Linked DNA regions of Homo sapiens: region 1 is linked to region 2. Evidence: fine-mapped expression QTL. A gene starts in region 2. The other region holds a variant in brackets. All regions are shown on one strand. Distances are from middle to middle. Region 1 has its middle 31 kb from the start of KCTD15. Region 2 holds the start of KCTD15 (potassium channel tetramerization domain containing 15).

Region 1 (5,365 bases), 31 kb before region 2:
TTTGTTTCAGCACCTGTTTTCAGTTATTTTGTATGTATCTAAGAATGGAATTGCTGGGTCACATAATATGACCTTATCATTAGAAAATATCAGCCCAGCCCAAATTGAGGGACATTCTACAAAATAAGTGGCTTGTAATCATCAAAAGTGTCAAGGTCATGAAAGTCAGGGAAAGACCCAGGAACTGAAGAGATGTGACTGCTAAATGTGTTGATCCTGGGCTGGATGCTTTGCTACTAAGGATGATACCAGGGCAATTGGTAAAATCTGTATGGGTCGGAAGAGCAGGTGTTAGTAATGCAGTTGTGTGGTTTCCTGGTATTGATGACTGTATGTGGTTACGGAGGGGAATATCCTTGTTTGTAGAAAACACAAGCTATTTTGGGGGTGAAGGGGCATCATGTCAGTAACAATATGAAATGGTTCATCAAAAAATAGTATTGGGCTGGGTGCAGTGGCTCACGCCTGTAGTCTTAGCACTTTAGGAGGCCAAGGCAGGAGGCTTGCTTGAGCCCAGGAGTTTGAGACCAGCATGGGTGACAGAGCGAGACTCCATCTCAAAAAAAGAAAAAAAAAAGAAGTTTTGCTTCCTCCAATATTGATAATAAAAAATCACAATTTTGGATCAATCACTCTAGAGGAAATGCAAAATTGCTTTTCTATTCTCTCTATAAAAACATATATTATTGTTGCTATTTGAAGAAGTGATCAGGGTAGACAGCTAAATTATGTAGGAAGCGTGTTACATCAGCCAGTTGATTAATAATATAGGAATGAAATACTAATATGGTATTGTTCTGAATTTTGTGATGTTCATAGTATTTTATTATTTTATTTTTTAGAGCTAGAGTCCTGCTGTGTCACCTAGGCTAGAGTGCAGTGGCATGATCAACAATTCACTGCAGCCTTGACCTTCTGGGCTCAAGGGATCTTCCCTACTTGGCCTCCAGAATAGCTGGGACTACAGGCATGCACCACCATTTCTAGCTAAATTTTGCTACGTTGCCCAGGCTGGTCTTGAACTCCTGGGCTCAACAATCCTCCTGCCTTGGCCTCCCAAAGTGCTGGGATTACAGGCATGAGCCACCATGCCTGGCCATTTTGTGGTATTTTAAATTTGTATTATGTTGTGACTTTTCTCATTCTAAATAAATACTTTTGTTCATGGTAAAACCAAACAAAACAGTTTTGTACTGTCCTTGCAAATTTTTTTGGTAAATTTGTGATTGTTTCAAAATACACCAAAATTAATTAAAAATATTTTATCAGATAATTTTCCATCAAGTGTGGTCCATTCTTGCTTCCATTTCTCTCCTGTTCTCTCTTTCCTCCCACCCTGCGGTCACTCCTTCTCCAAACCCTCTGCTGCACCCTTCTTCCCTCTCCCAGCTTCCAAACACCGAGTGCCCGGGGCTCATCCTGGAAACCTCTTCTTTTTTTTTTTTTTTAATGTGTGTGTGTGTGTGTGTGTGTGTGTGTGTGTTTTGAGATGGAGTCTTGCTGTGCTGCTCAGGCTGGAGTGCACTGGTACGATCTCGGCTCACTGCAGCCTCCGCCTCCTAGGTTCAAGAGATTCTCCTGCCTCAGCCTCTTACGTAGCTGGGATTACAGGTGCCCGCCACCATGGCAAGCTAATTTTTGCATTTTTAGTAGAGACAGGGTTTCACCATGTTGGTCAGGCTGGTCTCGAACTCCTGACCTCAAGACATCTGCCCGCCTCATCCTCCCAAAGTGCTGGGATTATAGGCGTGAGCCACCGCGCCCAGCCAGTCTCTTCTCTTTTGACACTTACTGCCTTGGAGACCTTATCCAGTCTTGGCTTTGAATGCTGTCTAACTTGTGAGGACCCTCCAACGTACACCTGCAGCCTGGACTCCCTCCTGAGTTCCCAAGTACCTGCCTGTCTCCCAGCCCAGCTTTGTCAGTCCTGTGCTTAACAGGCATCTCAACAGCCTGCCCCATCTGCCCAACACCATCAATCTTCTCATCCCAGCAAAAGGCAACTCCATCCTTCCTTTGCTCAGGCCAACCCCCTTGTAGCCACCCTAGACACCTCACTGCCTCCCACATTTCACATCTAAGCAGGCATCAAGTTATGTTGGCTCCTCCTTCCAAGTGTACCCAGGATGGAACTGCCTCTCCCTACTCCCACGTCTCTCACCCTGCTCCAGGCCACCTTCAGCT[C/T]GCTCTGAAGGATCATGGTCGCATCCAACTGGTTTCCCTGCTCCTCCCCAGCCCCCTTCAGTCTATTTCCCTCCTCTGCTCACCACTGGGCAGTGGCCACTGCTCTCAAGCTCAGGAAAAGCCCAAGTCCTGGCCTGGCGCAGTGGCTCACGCCTGTAATCCCAGCGCTTTGGGAGGCCAGGAGTTCCAGACCATCCTGGCTAACACGGTGAAACTCCATCTCTACTAAAAATACAAGTAATTAGCCAGGCATGCTGGCATGTGCCTGTAGTCCCAGCTACTGGGGAGGCTGAGGCAGGAGAATCAGTTGAACCCGGGAGGCAGAGGTTGCAGTGAGCCGAGATCATGCCACTGCACTCCAGCCTGGGAGACAGAGCGAGACTCCGTCTCAAAATAAAAATAAAAATAGAAGCCCAAGTCCCAATCACGGTTCATGGCAGTGTTTTAGATTGGGATGCTCCAGAAGCTGATGCCGAGACAAGACCTTGAACGCAGCATTCACTGGGAGGTGATTCCTGGTATATAGGAAGAGAGAGAGGGAAGTAAGACAGGGCAAGGAAGGAAGCCAAGAGAGGGAAGGCTAGTAAGGGAGCTACTTGTCTGGGCACGGCAGCTCATGCCTGTAATCCCAGCGCTTTGGGAGGCTGAAGTGGGAGGACCACTTGAGGCCAGGAGTTTGAGACCAGCCTGGGCAACATAGAAAGGCACCTCCACCTCTGCAAAAATAAAAATTGGCCAGGCACAATGGCTCATGCCTGTAATCCCAGCACTTTGGGAGGCAGAGGCTGACAGATCACTTGAGGTCAGGAGTTTGAGATGAGCCTGGTCAATGAGTAGAGATGGCAAAACTCCATCTCTACTAAAAATACAAAAATTAGCCGGGTGTGGTGGTGCACATCTGTAATCCCAGCTACTTGAGAAGCTGAGACACGAGAATCGTTTGAACCCGGGAGGTGGAGGTTGCAGTGAGCTGAGATCGTGCCACTGTATTCTAGCCTGGGCAACAGAGCAAGACTAGGTCTCAATAAATAAATAAATAAATAAATAAATAAATAAATAAATAAATAAATATAAAAAATTACCCAGGCATTGTGGCATGTGCCTGCAGTTCTAGCTGCTAGGGAAGCTGAGGTGGGAGGATCGCTTGAGGCCAGGAGTTTAGCTTTACAGTGTGCTATGATCTACCACTGCACCCCAGCCTGGGCAACAGAGCAAGACCCTGGCCCTTAAAAAGTAACAAATGAGGCAGGGCATGGTAGCTCACGCCTCTAATCCCAGCACTTTGGGAGGCCGAGGCAGACGGATCACCTGAGGTCAGGAGTTTGGGACCAGCCTGGCCAACATGGTGAAACCCCATCTTTACTAAAAATACAGAAATTAGCCAGACATGGTGGCGCATGCCTGTAATCCCAGCTACTTGGGAGGCTGAGGCAGGAGACTCATTTATACCTGGGAGGCAGGGGTTGCAGTGAGCCAAGATCATGCCGTTGCACTCTAACCCCACTGGAGGCCCCTGAGAGAGCCTAGAGCAGACCTCCCCATTGTCAGACGCAAAAGGCAAGACACCTGGGTGTTTATTTGCCATCTCCACAATAGTAGAGAGCTAAGGGGGCATTGACTTCCTGGCCTGCCCCACGCATGAGGAGCTGTTGCACTCCTCACCAACAAAGACCCTCAGGCAGAGAGCTACAGGAGCAGTAGGAAGCCATAGGGTCTGTGTGCACCTGAAGGCAAGTGCTAAGGGGAAATGGGTGGAGTACAGGCAACACGTTTTTCAAAGACCCTACATGATCTGACTTCCCTCCTACCCCAGGCACCCCTGCGACCTCACCTTCTGCAACTCCCCAGCCCCTCACACTCCAGCCACATAACCTCCTTCTTGCGTTTCTGAGACACATCATGCACACTCCTACCTCGAGGCCTTTGCCTTGCAGCCCCTTTGCCCCAAATGCTCTTCTGCCAGAAATCTGCATTTCTCCCGCCTTACCTTCTTCTTTTTTGCCGGGGGCAGGGATGGAGTCTCGCTCAGTCACCCAGGCTGGAGTGCAGTGACGCCATCTTGGCTCACTGCAACCTCTGCCTCCGGGGCTCAAATGATTCTCCTGCCTCAGCCTCCCGAGCAGCTGGGACTACAGGTGCAAGCCACCATGCCTGGCTAATTTTTGTATTTTTATTTTATTTTGTTTTGTGATGGACTCTCGCTCTGTCGCCCAGGCTGGAGTGCAGTGGTGCCATCTTGGCTCACTGCAACCTCTGCCTCACAGGTTCAAGCAATTCTCCTGTCTCAGCCTCCTAAGTAGCTGGGACGACAGGCGCAGGCCACCACGCCCAGCTAATTTTTGTATTTTTAGTAGAGATAGGTTTTCACCATATTGGTCAGGCTGGTCTTGAACTCCTGACCTCAGGTGATTTACTTACCTCGGCCTCCCAAAGTGCCGGATTACAGGCGTGAGCCATCCCGCCCAGCCTCCTGCCTTACCTTCTTTGGGGCTTTATTTAAATTTTACATGCGGCTCAGCGAGGCCTTCCTGGTGAAAACAGACAGCACTCGCCAATTAATAAAGTACTATTGGCTGAGCATCCCTAAACTGAAAATCTGAAATCCAAAATGCTTCAAAATCTGAAACTTTTTGGGTGCCACCCTGATGTCACAAGTAGAAAATTCCACAGTTGACTTCATGTAATGGTTTGGAGCTAAAACATGAGCACACAACACACAGTTTATTCACTGTCTCCAAGGAATCAAAGACTTCCCAGCTCCCATCAGCAGCAATATGTCTTTTCCACACTCACCCAGATCCCCACATAAGCACGCCCACAAAGCGTAATAAAACAGCACGTGTTCAGGCTGGACGCACCAACGGCAGGTTCCTCACAATGTCTCACGTGGGGCCAAGACATTACTCATATATATGGTGTATGTGTATGTATGTGTATATATATGCATGATATATATATATATATATATATATATATATACCATGCATATATATATATACCATGCATATATATATATATATTTATATATATACCATGCATATATATATATACCATGCATATATATATATATATATTTATATATATACCATGCATATATATATATATATATATATATATACCATGCATATATATATATATACCATGCATATGTATATGGCTGGGCACAGTGGCTCACATCTGT
Region 2 (5,365 bases):
CAGGAGGAAGCACAGAGCAAGCAGATCAGCCAATGGACCCTTTCTACTGCTCCTCCCCAGAGGCACTCAGTAACTCTCCTCTGTGCCGTAGTCACCTGAAATAAGATTGTCCCTCAGTCCCTGGAAGCCACACCCAGGGGCGCTTTGCAGGCCCTATGCAGGAGGGGCAGAATTCTGCAGCCCCGTTCACTGATTTACAGCTGTCTCAAAAGGGAGGAAAGAGGAGATTTGCACGTGAATAGTCACCCCCCTTCACACATCCACAGACACTGGCTTCCACAAACCTACCCTGGACGTCTCTCGAAGGTTTAACCTTTAAGAGAGAAACCACTTGAAATTCTTGGGACCCATGGGATTGCTTTTTCCCATTAAAACTCTGGGATCAAAATTTGTGCCTTGAAATTCAATATCCAATTTTAATCCAACCAGAATCAAATCCTGCAAATGTAAGCAAGGTTGCTCTCCCTGAGTGCCCGGGCAAGTTTCCTGACATAAAACTGGGGTGGGAGGTTGCAATGGGCAGACAGTGATGTTTAATATATACCCTCACTGGGGCCTGTGGACTCAGAATCCACTGCTTTTGGCATTCCTGAGTTCTACAAGCTTAAAAAAACAAAACCAGGTCACTTAGCTCAAGGAGTTCTGAGAACCAAAACAGACCTCAGGAATGGATTATCCTGCCCTAGGAGGCTCTGCTGGGGGAGGAGTCAGAAGGGAAGACGCGCTGAGGATAAACTGAACAGGAAGGAATTCTGGCTGAAATTCTATCAAAGCGGACTGCAAGATGTTTTCCCCAATACCAGGACACTATTCCAAAGTGACGTGAACACCAAGCCTCCATCACAGAAGCCGCTCCACTCTGTTCTTAGCCCCTTTTCCCTCCCAAGAACAACCTGATGTTCATGGCAAGCCAGAAACTTACCGTTGGAAGCCCCAGGCTTTACGCCTTGCCGTGAATCTCCAAGGTTTCTCCCAACAAGCGCATCCGTGCGGGACCACGACCCTCTTTCCGAGACCACTGCTTAAGTCAGAAGCACAAAAGTGGGTGCAGTGAGAGATACAAGTTCATTCCACCAGCACCAGCATCAAACCCAGCACCCAGCCCCAGTGCGCCCTGGCCCGCCTGTTGCAGGGGCCTCAGCGATAGCGGTCGGGAGGGCCCACAGGTTTCCAAACTGGCCCGGTAGTGACCCGCTTCTCCAGCTGCGGCGGGAGACCCGGGTCCCTGCCCGCCCGCCGCCGAGCCCCGCCCGCCCGAGCAGAGAGAAGTGAGCAGAATGCCACGCTCATTTACACACAAAATGATTTTGTGTCCCATTGCGCTCGCAGTTGTTCGGCTCTCTGGGGGTGATTAAACTGGCTGAGCTGCGGCAGCTTGAGACGATTTCACTAAATCGCTTCTTCTGAAGTCGCTTCTTTGCTAAGCTGTTATTTTAACCATAAAAGGTAAACAGAAGGCGCCTCTCGAGCTCCCCTCGGCTCCGCACTCAGGGCGCTGGCCCGGGGCGAAAGTCCTGGGGGCCTGCACAATTGTCCCAGGGGTGGCCCCGGAGAGGCAGGCGGGCCACCTGGTGCGCGCCAGCCTCCCCACCCCCCCCCTCCCGCCTCCGCCGCGGAGCCAGCCGGCCGGTGTGAACTTAGGGGCGACGGGAGAGGGCTTGGGCCAAGGCTGGAGGCGCCGCGGGGCGGGGTGGCCGCGGCACCCGAAGCGCGGGGCTGGGCTGGGAGGGGTTGCCGCGGAGGCGGGGCGGGGACAAAGTTAAATCAAGAGGCAGACACTTGGAGACCACAGATGGGAAGCTCGCCTAATTAAGGACGTAAAAGCGCTTTTGTTCTCAAAGTTTATTGTTGCCGGGATTAAAAAAAAATTAATTGAAACTAATGCTGTTATTCACTCGTGCAGTTAAATTCCTTCATGCACATTTGAGATACGGAGCGAAAACTTGAAGCTTATCTTTCTGCAGTCGCGGGTGGGGGCCGCCGGAAGACAGAAAGGCGCTGCAGAGGCGGGGGTCCGCCCCCGGGTGTGTTTGCGAGTGTGTGCCGGGTGCGCGCGTCCAGGTCAGGGGGTGCGGGCGGGCAGCGGGGAACCGGATCTGCAGGCGGCGATCCCTCCCATCGCGGCCCCTCTCCCAGCCCCAAACCCTGCGCGCCCGGGACCACCACCAGCGCGACAGCCCCTCCTGCCAGGTTTCGGACTCGTGGGGTGGGCGTCAGAGGACGCACATCTGTCCCACTGGAGACTTTCTCTGATTTTGGGCGCCAAGCCGGGACTTGTGCATCCCGAAGCCCCAGTTGCGTGAGCCCGTTTCTGACCCCGGAAACTCGCCAGCTCTGCAGGGCGCTCGGCCCAGAACAGGGGCCAGAGTGCGGGGACCTCCACAAGCGCGCGCGCGCGCGCGCGCACACACACACACACACACACACACACACACACACACCGCGCGGCAGGAAGCTCCGAGACCGCCCGCGTGGGGAGGGTCCACCCGCGGCCAGGACCAGCCCACGTGGGCAACCCCACTCTTGCACCAGGCCTTTGTGCTGGGCACCCCCGCGCCGCCAGCCCCCGCCGCCCAGCAGAGGGACAAAGCGGCCGCCCCCGCCCAGGTCCAGACCCTGGCCGGGCGACTTTCTCGGTATCGCAGCCACTTCGGGGCAGGGTTGCGCGGCTCTGAGCGGTGGCCGCCCGCGCTGAGCTTACCTCGGAGCCGGCAGATCGGGCTCGGGCGCAGCCCCCGCCCCACGCAGCTGCCGGTCTCGGGCGCCGGGCGCAGCTTCGCCGCCTATGCTCGCTGCGCGGGTCGCTCCGGTCTCGTCCTGGAGTTACTTTCTCTCTCGCCCCCAACCCTCCCCCCACCCACCCCTCCCGCCCCGGCCCCCGCTTCACGCGGCCCCTCGCGGCGCGGCGCGCCGGGGCCTCCCCTCCCCACCCTCCCCTCGCCTCCTCCCCTCTTCGCGGCCGCCGCCTCCGCCGCCGCCGCCTCCTCCTCGCGCCGCTCTCCGGCTGCCCTCCCGCCGCTCCCACCTCCTCTCCTCCCTCCTCTCTCTCCGGCGGCCTCCCTCGATTGCTGGAGAGAAAACCAGCCCCCCACTCCAGCCCCTAGCCAGCGCCTCGCCGCGGCCCAGCCCGGACGTAAAGGGCAGCGATCCGGCCCCAAATTACCCAGCGCGAACGGGCGCGCGCGGCGACTCCTGGCTCGGGGCTCGGCTGCGCCGCGGGGCAGAGGATTAGAGTCGCAATTAGCTCCGCGCGCCCGCGCCTGGCGACAAAAACGCGCCGTTTCCCCTCCTTTCGCCGGGCGATCCCCACCCGCCTCTCCCGAAGCCCGCGCCTTCCCGCCGGGGCCGCGGCCAGGACCCTCCCGGGAGCGGTGCGCCCAGGCCCCAGCGCCCTCCGCGGCCCAGCCCCCCGCCCCCCGCCGGCCGGCCACGCGGCGCCCGGGCCTCCTCCGGGCTCGGGGAGGGGGCGGGGGAGAGGCTGATTTTAATCATTGTCATTTCATCTGATGTAATATTTCCCCGGGCGCTTTCAGCTGGGCATAAATTTTCGGCTCCCAAATAAGTAACACAGGGCACGTTTCTCACATTTCTTGACTCCTCGGTTACAAAGAGGAGAGCAGCCGCCGCCGCGGCGCCCGGGGCTGGGGGCGGGACTTGGGAAGAAACTGGGCTGCCAGTCGGTCGGGGCTGGAGCGGAGCCGGGGGCCAGGCCGCCCCTCCCCCGCTCCCTGGCCGCCCTCCCAGGGTCTCTGCCCCGCTGCCCCTCTCCCGTGACGTCTGCGGACACGCGGTCGGCCGCCGCGGGGGAGGGACGCGCTGGGGCACCGGGCCGACCGCTCGCGGCTAGACGCGCCATTTCCTTTACGCGCGCGGCGCGATGGAGACGGCGGCAGCCAAGACTCCCCGCGGCCGAGGTCCGCGCCCCGGACGCCCCTCCCCAGTCTCCGCTTCGGCCGCCCCTTCCTCCTTTTCTCCCACTCCCACTCCTCCTCCCCTTCCTCTTCCTCCTGTTTCCTTTGCGCCCCGCCCGTGCCTCCTCCTCCTCCTCGGCGACCATTTCCCGGCTCCTAGGAAACGGAGCGCGCGACTGGCCGGCACTGCGCCCCCGCCTGGCTCCAGGGACGCCCGGGCCGGAGACCGGCTGGGACCGCGGGGCGGGTGCGCACGGGCCGGAACGGCGCCTGGGTCCCGACCGCCGGCTCCGGCCGGGCCTGGACGCCCCCTAGCGGCCGCACTCCCGGGGTGGGGGGCGCTCGGGGTCGGCCTGGAGCTGGGGTGAGGGGGACTCGGGGTGCCAGTGGGAGGAAGGTGAAGTGGGGGGGGCTTTCTCCCTCTACTAGAGGACCTCGCGCGCGTGGAGAGAGCGTCCAGACAGCGCTTCCGTAACTTCTTTACGCGGGAATCAGCCGAAACTTTCCTCCTAAGGGAAGGTTTTATTTATTTATTTATTTTCGAGTTCGAACTACAGGAAAAAGGGGGAAATTTTCTCATTAAAGTTACATCCCTGCAGTTAGTTCAATTATTTGATATATGCAGAAGATGTTGTAAATTTATAGATTTAAATAGCTTACAAAGATGCCGCAGGCCCCATCAGTTAATTTCCTTAATTTATGGATTTTGAGCTGCTCCTGGAACAGAAAGAAGCCCTGGAAGTAGGTCAGGGATCTGTGCAGGGGTTGGGAGGGGCTCCCGCGAGGCCCAAGGGCTGCCCACTCTGCTCCCTACGCCCCGGTACCTCCGGGCTTCCAGCTCCCAGCTTCGGCTCAGCAGCGCGCTCTCTGCGCGTTCGGCACGCTGGCCAGGCCCGGCCCGGCCCGAGAGGTCAGCCCAGCTTTGTGGCCGACTGTCCCAAGCACGACATAGGAACAGCAAAGCCCTCCATCAATGCACATCCCACTCAGCATTGAGGGACCAGACACAAATAGAAAGTGAAGCAAGTATTCAAATACTTTGATCTCCTGTATCCACCCTTAAATGCTGGCTAGAATCACAATCGGACGAGGTTGTGTGTGTGGGTGCCCCCAACTTCATGGACAGAAACGTCCTCCCCCGCCCCAGGCCTTTGTGGAGGGTGGAATGAGGGAAGGTGGAGCAGGCTTGTGTTGGAGGATGAGGGACTCACTGAAAATCCGCTTGTCATGGCTCCTGTGGCCCCCAGCGCCCCTCACACCTCTTTTGTCCCTCATCCTAGGTGGCTGCGGTAACGCCTTTGTTTCGTGTTCAATCTGGGTGAATATATACATATAAATTAATACTTGAAAGATTGGTATAAGCGAAACTGTTTTAGGAAGCCACATGGCAATGTGATTAGTATGGGTATTCATGATTTAACATTTATTTTCCCACTAGATGAAGTTTCTAAGAT

Evidence for each region. PIP is the estimated chance that this variant, and not a neighbour inherited with it, causes the effect. A credible set is the group of variants that fine-mapping cannot tell apart.
Region 1: its variant is the best candidate, but not a certain one, in a credible set for the expression of KCTD15 in whole blood (INTERVAL, PIP 0.74).

The regions. Positions count from the first base shown.
Region 1 is chr19:33,825,388-33,830,752 of GRCh38, reverse strand. No RefSeq gene overlaps it. Among named protein-coding and RNA genes, the nearest start is that of KCTD15, 31 kb to the right of the region's middle. The variant C/T (reference allele first, on the strand shown) is at 2,185.
Region 2 is chr19:33,794,324-33,799,688 of GRCh38, reverse strand. KCTD15 (potassium channel tetramerization domain containing 15) reads right to left here and starts at 2,819. Exons shown (of 7, transcript NM_001129994.2): 1 at 2,702-2,819; 2 at 923-1,021. RefSeq lists a silencer at 4,121-4,240 and an enhancer at 4,886-5,365.